2 linked regions of the Homo sapiens genome follow. The protein of the gene in region 1 purifies or fractionates together with the protein of each later gene. This does not show direct contact. Each region holds a gene or a part of one and is shown on either strand. Other genes may lie near its edges.

Region 1 (4,505 bases):
TCACTATGTTGCTCAGGCTGATCTTAAACTCCTGAGCTCAAGCATTCCACCCATCTCAGCCTCCTAAAGTTCTGGGATTATAGGAGTGAGCCACTGCGCCCAGCCTATCTCATTTAACTCTCACGGGAGTCTAATTAAGCAGGTGTCTCCATTTCACAGAGTGAAAACTGAGGAAGAGACAGCATTCAAGTAATTTGCTCAAAGTCATACAGCAAAGTGATTGAAATGCATTTCCTTCTCTACCTGGTGAACTCCTACTTATCCTTTAAACTCCTGCACAAATGTCCCCTCATTGAGAAGCCTTTCCTGACTCCTTCAGGCACAGCCTGTGGACTTGGTGTGGTGCACCCCATACCCCCTTCTGTTACAGCACTGATCTATTTGTGTTATGTGTTCACACAGCAACGGGGGTGACTTCTGTGTGCCGGGCACAATACAGGAGCTTAGAAAATCACAGTGAACAAATATCTGAATCACTGCCCTCACGGAATTTGTGGGGAAGGGTGACATAGACCATTATCAAGTAAACACAAATGAGATAATTTCAGGTATAATAGGTGCTATTAAAAAAAAAAACAAACAAACAAAAAACAGAGCATCGGGACTGGATGACCAAAAGTGGACTCCTATAGCCTGGGCAATTCAGGAAGGCCTCCCGGAGGAGGTGACTTTTGAGTGGAGACCTGAATGACAGGAATGTAAGACTGGCCTGTCTCCCTGACCTAACTAGCAGCTCCTTGAGGGTAGTGCCTGGTCTGATTCATCTTTGAGGCCTGGCATAAGACGTGGCTCGATAAACATTGTGGAGTGACTAAAGGGACGGGTGAGTTGCCTTTAATAATGAATCGAGTTTTCAAGTTTCCACCGACCTCGCTTCTGGTCTTTGGATGACAAACCCAGCTGATACGCCTGTCTGACATTTCCTGCGTGTGCTAATGGGGGCAGAATGGGAAAGAGGCCACGGAAGGGAGCTGTGTGCTCAGACCTTGTACATCAACCTCCTGTGGGCTCTGCAGGGTGGGGGACCTTGTGATCACCCCTACGTATGTCCCCAGCACCCAGCACTGGGCCTGGCACATAATAGATGCTCCATAAATTGGTAACTGAAAGGACAAACAAACAAACAAAAACCCCGTGCTTAATGGGAAATTTCTGTTGTGCCTATATTCAGCTAGCTTATGTTACTGCTTCAAAGTTCAGGATAAGCTGAGACACTCAAACTTCTTCTTTTTTTGAGATGGAGTTTTGCTCTTTTGTCCAGGCTGGATGGAGTGCAATGGTGCAATCTTGGCTCACTGCAACCTCTGCCCCCCGGGTTCAAGTGATTCTTCTGCCTCAGCCTCCCAAGTAGATGGGATTATAGGTGCCTGCCACCATGCCTGGCTAGTTTTTGTATTTTCAGTAGAGATGGGATTTCACCATTTTGGCCAGACTGGTCTCGAACACCTGACCTCAGATGATCTGCTTTCCTCGGCCTCCCAAAGTGCTAGGATTACAGGCGTGAGCCACCACACCCAGCGGACACTGAAGCTTCTATTAGCCTTACCTGGATTCTGTGTATTAACTCCCCTTCCCTCCCCCAATTTCAGGGAGAATCAAACAATTCCTCCTCCCAAGTTTTCAGGACGAAAATCTCACAGCCAATTAATAACAGACAAACCAAAGATTTTCCCCTAAATGTCAGAGGGAGGTTTCTTGGCACAAGCTGGGCAGTTGAGGTGGCAAGGGTTTCCCAATCTTCACTACCCCCTCGGCCCTCTGGTCTTAGAGGCTGGGATAGAAGCAAGGTGAGGTCCCTTGAGTTCAGTGGCCTCATGAAGGCAGAGAAGGTGCTAATGACTCAGGGCCAGCCTAGCTCGGAGGAACTGGTGTTGGGTGGAACCAGAAGTGGGAAACAGTGGGAGATGAGAAGGAAGTGGTTAAAAGGTGTTTCCTGGGACTTGGAACTAGGGTGAGGAAAATGATTCTTCCATCATCCCTAAGGGTTGGGGATGGAAGGTTGGGACTGGGGGCTACCCTGTGCACTTCTTCCCTGGACACACGCTTTCACCGGGACGTGGTCAGATCACGACAACAGGTAACCTTTAGTCAGAACTCACCACCCACTGTGTTAAGCCTTACATGACAATCACCATGAAGATTTACATACACATGTTATATCATAGTCTCCTCACAACATGTCTAAGAGGTAGGCACGTCATTGTTCCCATTTTGCAGATGAGGAAACTGAGGTTCAGAGAGGGCACTTGGCTTGCCCAAAGTCACACAGCAGGGAGTGGCAGAGGAAGTCAGGTTGGGTGACCCCAGTAACTGCTCTCAGAGGCTGGGTGATGACCGGCTTCCTGGCTTCTCTGGAATAAACCTTTGCCACCACTTCCTGCATTTCAGCTTCAGTACAGGCAGAGAATGGGGATAGGTGGGGGAATGAGGTGAGAGGGGAGATGTTTAGAGGTGTGGAGGGCGGCAGAGGTTTGAACAGTGCAGACAAGGGGAGAGTTCAGCCGACTGGGGAGGAAGAGGATGGACGATGGAGCCTCTGGGCATCTGGATCAGCAGGAGCATAACATCTGGATCAGCTGGAGCGTAGCATCTGGATCAGTTGGAGCGTATGACTTTATTGATCCAGGACATGTATTTGCAGATCTGGGTGTAGACAGCTGGATGCTGGGCAGAGCCACAGGGGTAAACACCCCACGAGAGGATGCCTTGGAGGGTCTCGTCACAGACCAGGGGGCCTCCAGAGTCACTCTGGGGGTGGCAGGAAGGAGAGATCAAATAAATGTGCCAACGTGAGAGCTGTCACTTTGGGATCTGGGGCAGTGGTGGGGAAGGAAGGAGTTGGGTTGGGATAAAGACGAGGATGGGATGGGGTTGGAATTAGGTATGAGCTGGAAGGTAGGAATGGAGGTGGACTTCAGGTTATGGGAGGTTGGGCTGGGGGATGAGAATGAAGGCACAGTGAGACTGGGGTTGGGATTGTAGTTCATGGAAGGTGAGGGGATGAAAATGGGCTTGGAGATGGGAATGGGGTGGGGTTGGGATGGAAATGGGATTGAGGATAGGGATGAGGAGGGGGTTAGGTCTGGGTAAGAGTTGGGGTCAAGGATGGGTTTGGGAATGGAGTTGGGGATCGGGCACAGGGTCTGCTCTTTTCCCATAACCTCCCTGTCCTCCCTCCCAGGAGTCAGAGACTCTCCCTGTTCAGACCCTACCTGGCAAGGGTCCTGGCCCCGGTCCAGTCCAGCACATATCATGTTGTTGGTGACCACGCCAGGGTAGAAGACCTCACACTCTTTAGGGCTCAGGATAGTGATGCTGGAGCAGGTCAGGCCCTTGTTGTACTTCACTGAAGGGAGAATATGCCAGTAATCCCTGGGTCCAGCCCCCAATCCTTGGGGAGCCAGGAGTCCAGATACAAGACCGTTTCTATCCTAAGCCCCAGCCCCTCCTCCTTCAGACTCAAGAATCCTGGCCCCAGCCCCTCCCCACTTAGACCCAGGAGTCCAGGCCCCCAGCCCCTCCTCCCCTCAGACTCACAGACCCAGGCATCTAGGACCCCAGCCCGTCCTCCCTCAGATCCAGGAATCCAGTCCCCAGCCCATCCTTCCTCAGACCCAGGGGTTCAGGCCCTCAGCCCCCTCCTCCTGAGGTTCCGGCCTCAGAGCCCCAGCTCTTGCCTCTCCGGGCGGCCGTGGTGCCCCAGCCAGCAACCTGGCACTGGTCTCCGGGCTGAGCACAGCGGTAGGGAAGCTGCAGGGCCCGGACGCGGGGCCCCAGCACTACGGGCCTGGCCAGCTTCAGCAACATGAGATCGTGCTCATCCGTTCGCCTTGGCAGGATGGGGCCTGAGCCCTGGTGGTACTTGGGATGGACAACAGAGCGAGTGGTCCGGCGGAGCTGCTCTCCCTGAAGAAGCAGCAGGTGGTCATCCCCTACTCGAGCCCACAGTGGCCTGGGGGAAGGAAGAGGCATGTGAAGGCAAACCCTTCATAGGGACTGGGAAAGCAGGTGGGCAGTGACGCAGGGCCTGGAGATAGGAAGAGTCTGAGGGAAGAGGGCCTTGTGGGAGAAGGGGACCTCAGTGGACATGGGGAGGAGGAATCAGTTGTTTGAGCTCTGAGGATCTGTAGGAATTGAGGAGGGCTGGGGGCCTGGACACCTAGGTAAGCCTTCCACATTTTCTTTTCTCTTTTTCTTTTCTTTGTTGAAACAGAGTTTCGCTCTTGTCACCCAGGCTAGAATGCAATGGCGCAATCTCGGCTCACTGCAACCTCCACCTCCCAGGTTCAAGCAGTTCTCCTGCCTCAGCCTCCTTCCTGAGTAGCTGGGATTACAGGCACCCACCACCACACCCAGCCTTTTTTTTTTTTTAATTTTTTTAAAATTTTTTATTTTTTATTTTATTTTATTTTTAGTTGAGAAGTGGTTTCACCATGTTGGCCAGGCTGGTCTTGAACTCCTGACCTCAGGTGATCCACCCGCCTTGGCCTCCCAAAGTGCTGGGA
Region 2 (7,034 bases), on another chromosome or scaffold:
GCATGAATGATTATTTTTCTCCTTGTCATTTCAGGCTTTCAGGTATAGGCTGGGTCACTAGTCTTAAAACATTTCTTCTTGAGAATGTCTAAAAGACTGTGGAATCTGTTAGATCTTATATACTTTTAAGTTGGCACCTGAAACTTTTCATCCTAGATTTACATAGTGTAAGTATTTAATTTTAAATAGTTTAGGATGTAATTTCTGACAAGTAAATATTGACTTCTTAAAAATAAATATAAAATTACCTAAATACAATATCAATTTGATGTTGTAAAAACATACAACTAAACTTTTGAAACAAAGACTGTAAGAAATACATAACATAGCTTATTACATTACTTGATTTTCAGATGTTAAACCCATCTTGCATTTGTGAAATGAACCCTGCTTAGTAATGTATCTACTACTTTTTACATATAGATGGATTCAATTTGCTAACATTTTGTTAATTTTTGTGACTGTGTTCATGATGGATATTGGTCTGAGGTTTCCTTTTTTTTATGTCATCTTTGGCCTTAGTAGCAGGGTAATTATGACCTCATAAAATGAATTGGGAAGTGTTCCTTCCTCCTCTGTTTTCTGAAATAGTTTGTGTAGGATTGGTATTATTTCTTACGTGTTTCATAGAATTTACCAGTGAAGTCCTATGGGCCTGGGTTTTTCTCTCTGGGAAGATTTTACTAATTCAATTTCTTAATATAGTTAGTTGAGTTAGTTTTGGTCATTTTTATCATTTTGGGAGTTTGTCCATTACATATTTTTCCTTTTTCTTTTTGAACTTGTATCCATTCCACTTTTCCCACAGAATTTTATCCTAAAGCAAAAGTCAACTTTCTGTCAAAGGCCAGATGAAAGGCTTTATGGGCCACATGGTTTCTGTGATTACTGCTTAATTCTCACTGTAGTGAGAAAACAGCCATAGACAATATGTGGCCGGGTGCGGTGGCTCACGCCTGTAATCCCATCACTTTGGGAGACTGAGGCAGGCGGATCACGAGGTCAGGAGATCGAGACCATCCTGGCTAACACAGTGAAACCCCGCCTCTACTAAAAAATACAAAAAAAATTAGCCGGGCGTGTTGGTGGGCGCCTGTAGTCCCAGCTACTTGGGAGGCTGAGGCAGGAGAATCGCTTGAACCCGGGAGGTGGAGGTTGCAGTGAGCCGAGATCGCTCCACTGCACTCCAGCCTGGACGACAGAGCAAGACTGTCTCAAAAAAACCCAAAAAAACCCAGAAAATAGCCGTAGATAATATGCAAGTATTTTTGTGTAGTTGTGTTCCAATAAAACTTTATTGGTAGCAGACCAGATCTGGTTTAGGGCTGTAGTTTTCCTACCCATCCTAAAGTAATAAATTTTATGCCTGAAAATTTAAAATTGATCATCTAGTTATCCACACAGATCAGGTTTATGAGAGTAGCATGGAAGTTGATTCCCTTGCTTGCATATCTTTGTGTACCCCCTACGGACATGTGTATTCCAGTGTAAAGACCAGGACTTGATTTCCAAGATGTTGTAGAGGGAATTCATGTATTTTTGTAATTTTGTTTGGGTGAGAAGTGAGGTGGCCCTCACAGCGCCATAACTTAAGTTCCCTATGTGATCGGTATTCTTTCTGGCAAAAGGAGACATTTGAACTAAAATTTTTTATGTTGTAGACACTATATGGATTATCTCATTTAATCTTAAAATAATCCATATAGTATCTTAAAATAATCCATATAGTATCTTAAAATAATTCATATAGTGGTTCTATGAGATAGGTGTATAATTGGCATAATTCCCTACAGATGAGGCAGTTGAGACTCAGATTAGGTAATTTGCCCAGGTCGTAGTGCTGGTTAGTAAGGAAGTTCAGAAGTGAACCAGGGGCTGTGATGTCTGATTTCATTTTTTTCTTTTTTTTTTTTTTTGAGACAGGGTCTTGCTCTGCCACCCAGGCTGGAGTGCAGTGGTGCAATCTTGGCTCACTGCAACCTCCGCCTCCCAACACTTCTGACTAATTTTTTGTATTTTTTCTAGAGACAGAGTTTTGCCATGTTGCCCAGGCTGGCTTTGAACTCCTAGGCTCAAGCGGTCAGCCCTCCTTGGCCTCCCACAGTGCTAGGATTGCAGACACTAGCCACCTGAGGCGTGAGCCACCACACCCAGTGTGATTTCAGAATTTTATTCTCTTTTCACCGTGCTGCCTTTTATGGAAGATATGGGTTTAGTACTGGATTTAGATAGGGGATTGTGCTGGATTTCTTTTTCTGAGGCGGGGTGGGGGTGGAAACAGTCTTGCTATGTTGTCCAGGCTGGTCTGAAACTCCTGGCCTCAAGTGATCCTCCTGCCTCAGCCTCCCAAAGTGCTGGGATGTAGGGCCTGAGCCATCATGCTGGGTTGCATATTTTCTTTTAAGATCTCTGCCTTTCCCAATATTTTGATTAAACAAACACCTTTCCTGTTGTGTGGAACAATTCCTAGTTTTTCAGAAATCTATAACTACTCACTCATCCACAGCTGTTAATTATAATTGTTTTTAGCAGGCCAAGGGTTGTTTATTGGATCTGAATGCTGTGAGTTGTCTGATGTGGCACAGAGATGGAGGTAGCTAGATTTGTAATTGGCAACTTGTTTATTTGTAATTTATGGATCATTTGGGCGCTGCCTTAGTAATATAATAGATGGAAGAGTGTTTAGCGCTACCTGACTTTGTTATCCAAAGGCTTATCAGAATAATGATAAAGTCCCATTACTTATCTGGCATTCAGTAGTCTGGAAATCCTGATAGTTCAGCATTTGAGCAAAATAGTCCCATAATTAAAAGTAATCTGGAAAATCTTGATTATGTCACATCTGTGGCTCCCTTCCTAGCTACACAGATTGTTAGGATAGATTTTAATAACAAGTTGGCAAAATAAGTGTTGGTTAGCTAGCTGCACAAACATTGCATTTTTTTGAAATATTTAACATTGTTGAATACTACACAGAAAAATTAGTTTTTTTTAGAAGTGGAATTGTTTGAAGGATTTATTGTCATGAATAGGCTTTACAGGGAAGATGTATTTTTTTTTATTGTACATCAAATCCTGTCAGCAAACTTACACTAGTAATGTATTAATGAGATGAAGGATATTCCAAAGTAGCTAGATTTGTAATTGGCAACTTGTTTATTTGTATAAGAACAAAGTGGTAAATGAATTAAAGTATTCTTACCTGGAGGTGTTTAAGAAATGGAGGCAGGGCCGGGCGCAGTGGCTCACGCCTGTAATCCCAGCACTTTGGGAGGCCGAGGCGGGCGGATCATGAGGTCAGGAGATCGAGACCATCCTGGCTAACACGGTGAAACCCCATCTCCACTAAAAATACAAAAAATTAGCCGGGCGCGGTGGCGGGCACCTGTAGTCCCAGCTACTCAGGAGGCTGAGGCGGGAGGATGGTGTGAACCCAGGAGGCGGAGCTTGCAGTGAGCTGAGATAGTGCCACTGCAGTCCGGCCTGGGCGAAAGAGCGAGACTCCGTCTCAAAAAAAGAAAAAAAAAAAAGAAATGGAGGGAGAAGGAAGACAAATAAGACTAAATGAACTTTGGTAGCAAGTTCTTGACTGAATAGTAATTCACAACATCTCTGAATTCAGTAGTCATTACAATTTTAGGAATAATTTATTGGGAGAATAACAGTATCAATGAAGCAAGAGTAAATAAGAAGTATGTTTAAGAAAATACCAAAACCATTGCACCCCACCAGAATGAGTAAGTTGAAGAGAACAATAGTACCAAGTTTTGGCAAGATGAGGAGCAGAAAGAACTCACGTATGGTGGGTTGTATAAATGTAGATGGTAATACAAAATGGTACAACCACTTTGGAAAACTGTTCAGTGGTTCCTAATAAAGTCATAAATATAACATGACTTCCTGTGTTATATGCCCAGTAGAAATGGATGTATTTGTCCATCGCAGAAATATACTGTATACAGTTTAAGAATATTATTTGTAATAAGTCAGAACTAGAAATAACCCAACTATGTATCAGCAGTAGAATGGATAAATACATTGAGGCATGCTTACAGAAAACAGCACAGCTATGAGAAAGAATAAACTTCTGATACATGCAACAATGGGGATGAATCTCACAAATGTACTTTTTTTTTTTTTTTTTTTGAGACAGCATCTCGCTCTGTCACCCATACTGGAGTGCAGTAGCAGGATCTTGGCTCACTGCAACCTCCGCCTCCCCAGTTCAAGCGATTCTTGTGCCTCAGCCTCCTGAGTAGCTGGGATTACAGGCATGTGCCACCACGCCCAGCTAATTTTTTGTATTTTTAGTAGAGACAGGGTTTTGCCATGTTGGCTAGATTGGTATTGAACTCTTGACCTCAAGTGATCCACCCGCCGTGGCCTCCCAAAGTGCTGGGATTACAGGCATGAGCCACCATGCCTGGCCTCACAGATGTACTTTTGAGCAAAAGAAGACAAACACTCTGAAAGAGAACCTTTATGATTCTGTTTATGTGAAGCTCAAAATCAGGCTCAAATAATCTTTCATGATAGATGTCAGAATAATAACTACCTGTAGGAGGACACAATGGAGCCTTTTGAGGTGTTGGAAATAGTCTGTCTTGTTTTGAGTGGTGGTCACATGGGTGAATTGATATGTAAAATTTCAGGGAGGTGTACACTTAAAATATGTAGACTGACTTACTGTATATGTTATACCTTGATAGAAAAGTAGAAAATAAAAGACAAGATTGGTTCCTTGTAGCTCCTGTATCTCCTGTACTTCTTTTGACGTGGAGGTGTTAGCTGTATAATTGATGGAGCCCCTTCCCTAGTCCGATTAGGAACCCAGTTGATGGGCACTGTACTTGTTTTAGATTTACTGTTTTCTGTAAATAGCATAATTTTCTTTATAGAATAAACCTGTTTGAGGAGTTTTGAATAATGCTATTTTACCAAGGGAAGTTTCTGAGGAAAGGGAAGTTTGTTACACATTCAGTGGTTATATTTTTAAAAGTTTCTATTAATATTAACTACATAGAAGAACACTTATAAACGAGTATCCACATTTTCAAAGTGTTAAAAATTCTATTCAGTTACTACTACCATAATATAAACTTGAATGCACAACATCAGTGTCTTAAAGATATATGTTAAATAAAACAGTAAAAGCCTTTTCATATCTGGTTAATTTCTGGTGCTTTTTATTCTGCATCTATCTAAGCATCTGAGTAGAATTATGATGGATTATAAATGATAGGAAAGGAAACTCATGCTTTTGTGACATTAGGCAAAGGTTGATCAGGAAGGGAAAAGAAGCCTAAAATGTGTGTATTTTGTGCTTTTTTACCATCATCATTATTGTTGAAATTGTGTTGCATTGAAAATTTACCCAAGGGCCAGGCACAGTGGCTCATGCCTGTAATCCTAGTGCAGAGGCTGAGGTGAGCAGATCACCAGAAGGCAGGAGTTCGAGATCAGTCTGGCCAACATGGTGAAACCCCATCTCTACTAAAAATACAAAAATTAGCTGGGTGTGGTGGCGGGCGCCTGTAGTCCCAGCTACTCAGGAGGCTGAGGAAGGAGAATTGCCTGATTGAACCTGGGAGGCAGAAGTTGCAGTGAGCCAAGATTGCGCCACTGCACTCTAGCCTGGGCGACAGAGCAAGGCTCTGTTTCATTCTATAATAAATGTAACAAAAAAAAGCCTGTATGAGCCTGCTAATTCATTGTTCTTTTAATCTTCGGTTCTGTCCGCATAGTTTTATGATACTGGCTCAGTTAGATCACTAGAGAACTATCTAGAGTTTGATTAATCCCTAGAGCTGGACTCTTTCAGACTTAGTGTTTCTAATGGGGCATACTGTTTTTTGTTTTTTTTTTTGAGACAGGGTCTTGCTGTGTTGCCCAGCCTGGTCTTGAATTCCTGGACTCAAGTGATGCTCCTGCCTTGGCTTCCCAAACTCCTGGAATTACAACTGTGAGCCACTGCACCCAGCCAGGAGTGCTTTATTTTTATTTATTTTTTATTTTTTTCTAGACGGAGTCTTGCTCTGTTGCCCAGGCTGGAGTGCAGTGGTGCGGTGTCGGCTCACTGCAGGCTCCGCCTCTTGGGTTCAAGCAGTTATCCTGTCAGCCTCCTGAGTAGCTGGGATTACAGGTGCATGCCACCATGCCGTCCACGTCGGCCTCCCAAAGTGCTGGGATTATAGGCGTGAGCCATTGCGGCTGGCCTGGAGGAGTGCTGTATATGCTTTTTTGCCCCTTTCCCTTCATTTATGTATTTATTTTGAGACAAAGTCTTGCTCTTGTTAGCAGGCTGGAGTGCAGTGGCGCAATTTCTGCTCACTGTATCCTCTGCGTCTTGGGTTCAAGTGGTTTTCCCACCTCAGCCTCCTAAATAGCTGGGATTACAGGCACCCACCACCACACCTGGCTAATTTTTGTATTTTTAGTAGAGATGGGGTTTCACCATGTTGGCCAGGCTGGTCTCAAACTCCTCAGGTGATCCACCTGCCTCGGCCTCTGAAAGTGCTGGGATTATAGGAGTGAGCCACCGTGGCTGGCCTATTTAATTTTTTTTGAGATGGAGTCTTGTTCTTGTTGCCCAGGCTGGAGTGCAATGGTGTGATCTCAGCTCACTGCAACCTTCGCCTCCCAATTTCAAGTGACTCCCCTGCCTCAGCCTCCCAAGTAGCTGGGATTACAGGCATGCACCACCATGCCCGGCTAATTTTTTTTTTTTGAGACCGAGTCTTGTTCTCGTTGCCCAGGCTGGAGTGCAATGGCACGATCTCAGCCCACTGCATCCTCCGCCTCCCGGGTTCAAGCGATTCTCCTGCTTCAGCCTCCTGAGTAACTGGGATTACAGGAACATGCCACCGCATTTGGCTAATTTTTGTATTTTTAGTAGAGATGGGGTTTCACCTTGTTGGTCAGGCTGGTCTCGAACTCCTGACCTTGTGATCCACCTGCCTCAGCCTTCCAAAGTGCTGGGATTACAGGCGTGAGCCACTGCGCCCGGCCAATTTTGTATTTTTAGTAGATATGGG

What was found. Proteins that work in one complex are often made in the same cells at the same time.
Region 2: the proteins of KLK10 (region 1) and EDC3 purify together in Homo sapiens (affinity purification with mass spectrometry; 3 studies listed by BioGRID and IntAct, with this or other methods). This does not show direct contact.

Annotation. Positions count from the first base shown.
Region 1 is NC_000019.10:51,012,205-51,016,709, forward strand, and holds the end of KLK10 (kallikrein-10 preproprotein), read right to left. Parts: intron 3,953-4,505; coding exon 3,678-3,952; intron 3,347-3,677; coding exon 3,213-3,346; intron 2,749-3,212; coding exon 2,596-2,748; 3' UTR 535-2,595; downstream 1-534. UniProt on the Homo sapiens protein: Has a tumor-suppressor role for NES1 in breast and prostate cancer.
Region 2 is NC_000015.10:74,686,019-74,693,052, reverse strand, and holds part of EDC3 (enhancer of mRNA-decapping protein 3), read left to right. Parts: intron 1-34; exon of another isoform or gene 35-167; intron 168-5,873; exon of another isoform or gene 5,874-5,962; intron 5,963-7,034. UniProt on the Homo sapiens protein: Binds single-stranded RNA. Involved in the process of mRNA degradation and in the positive regulation of mRNA decapping. May play a role in spermiogenesis and oogenesis.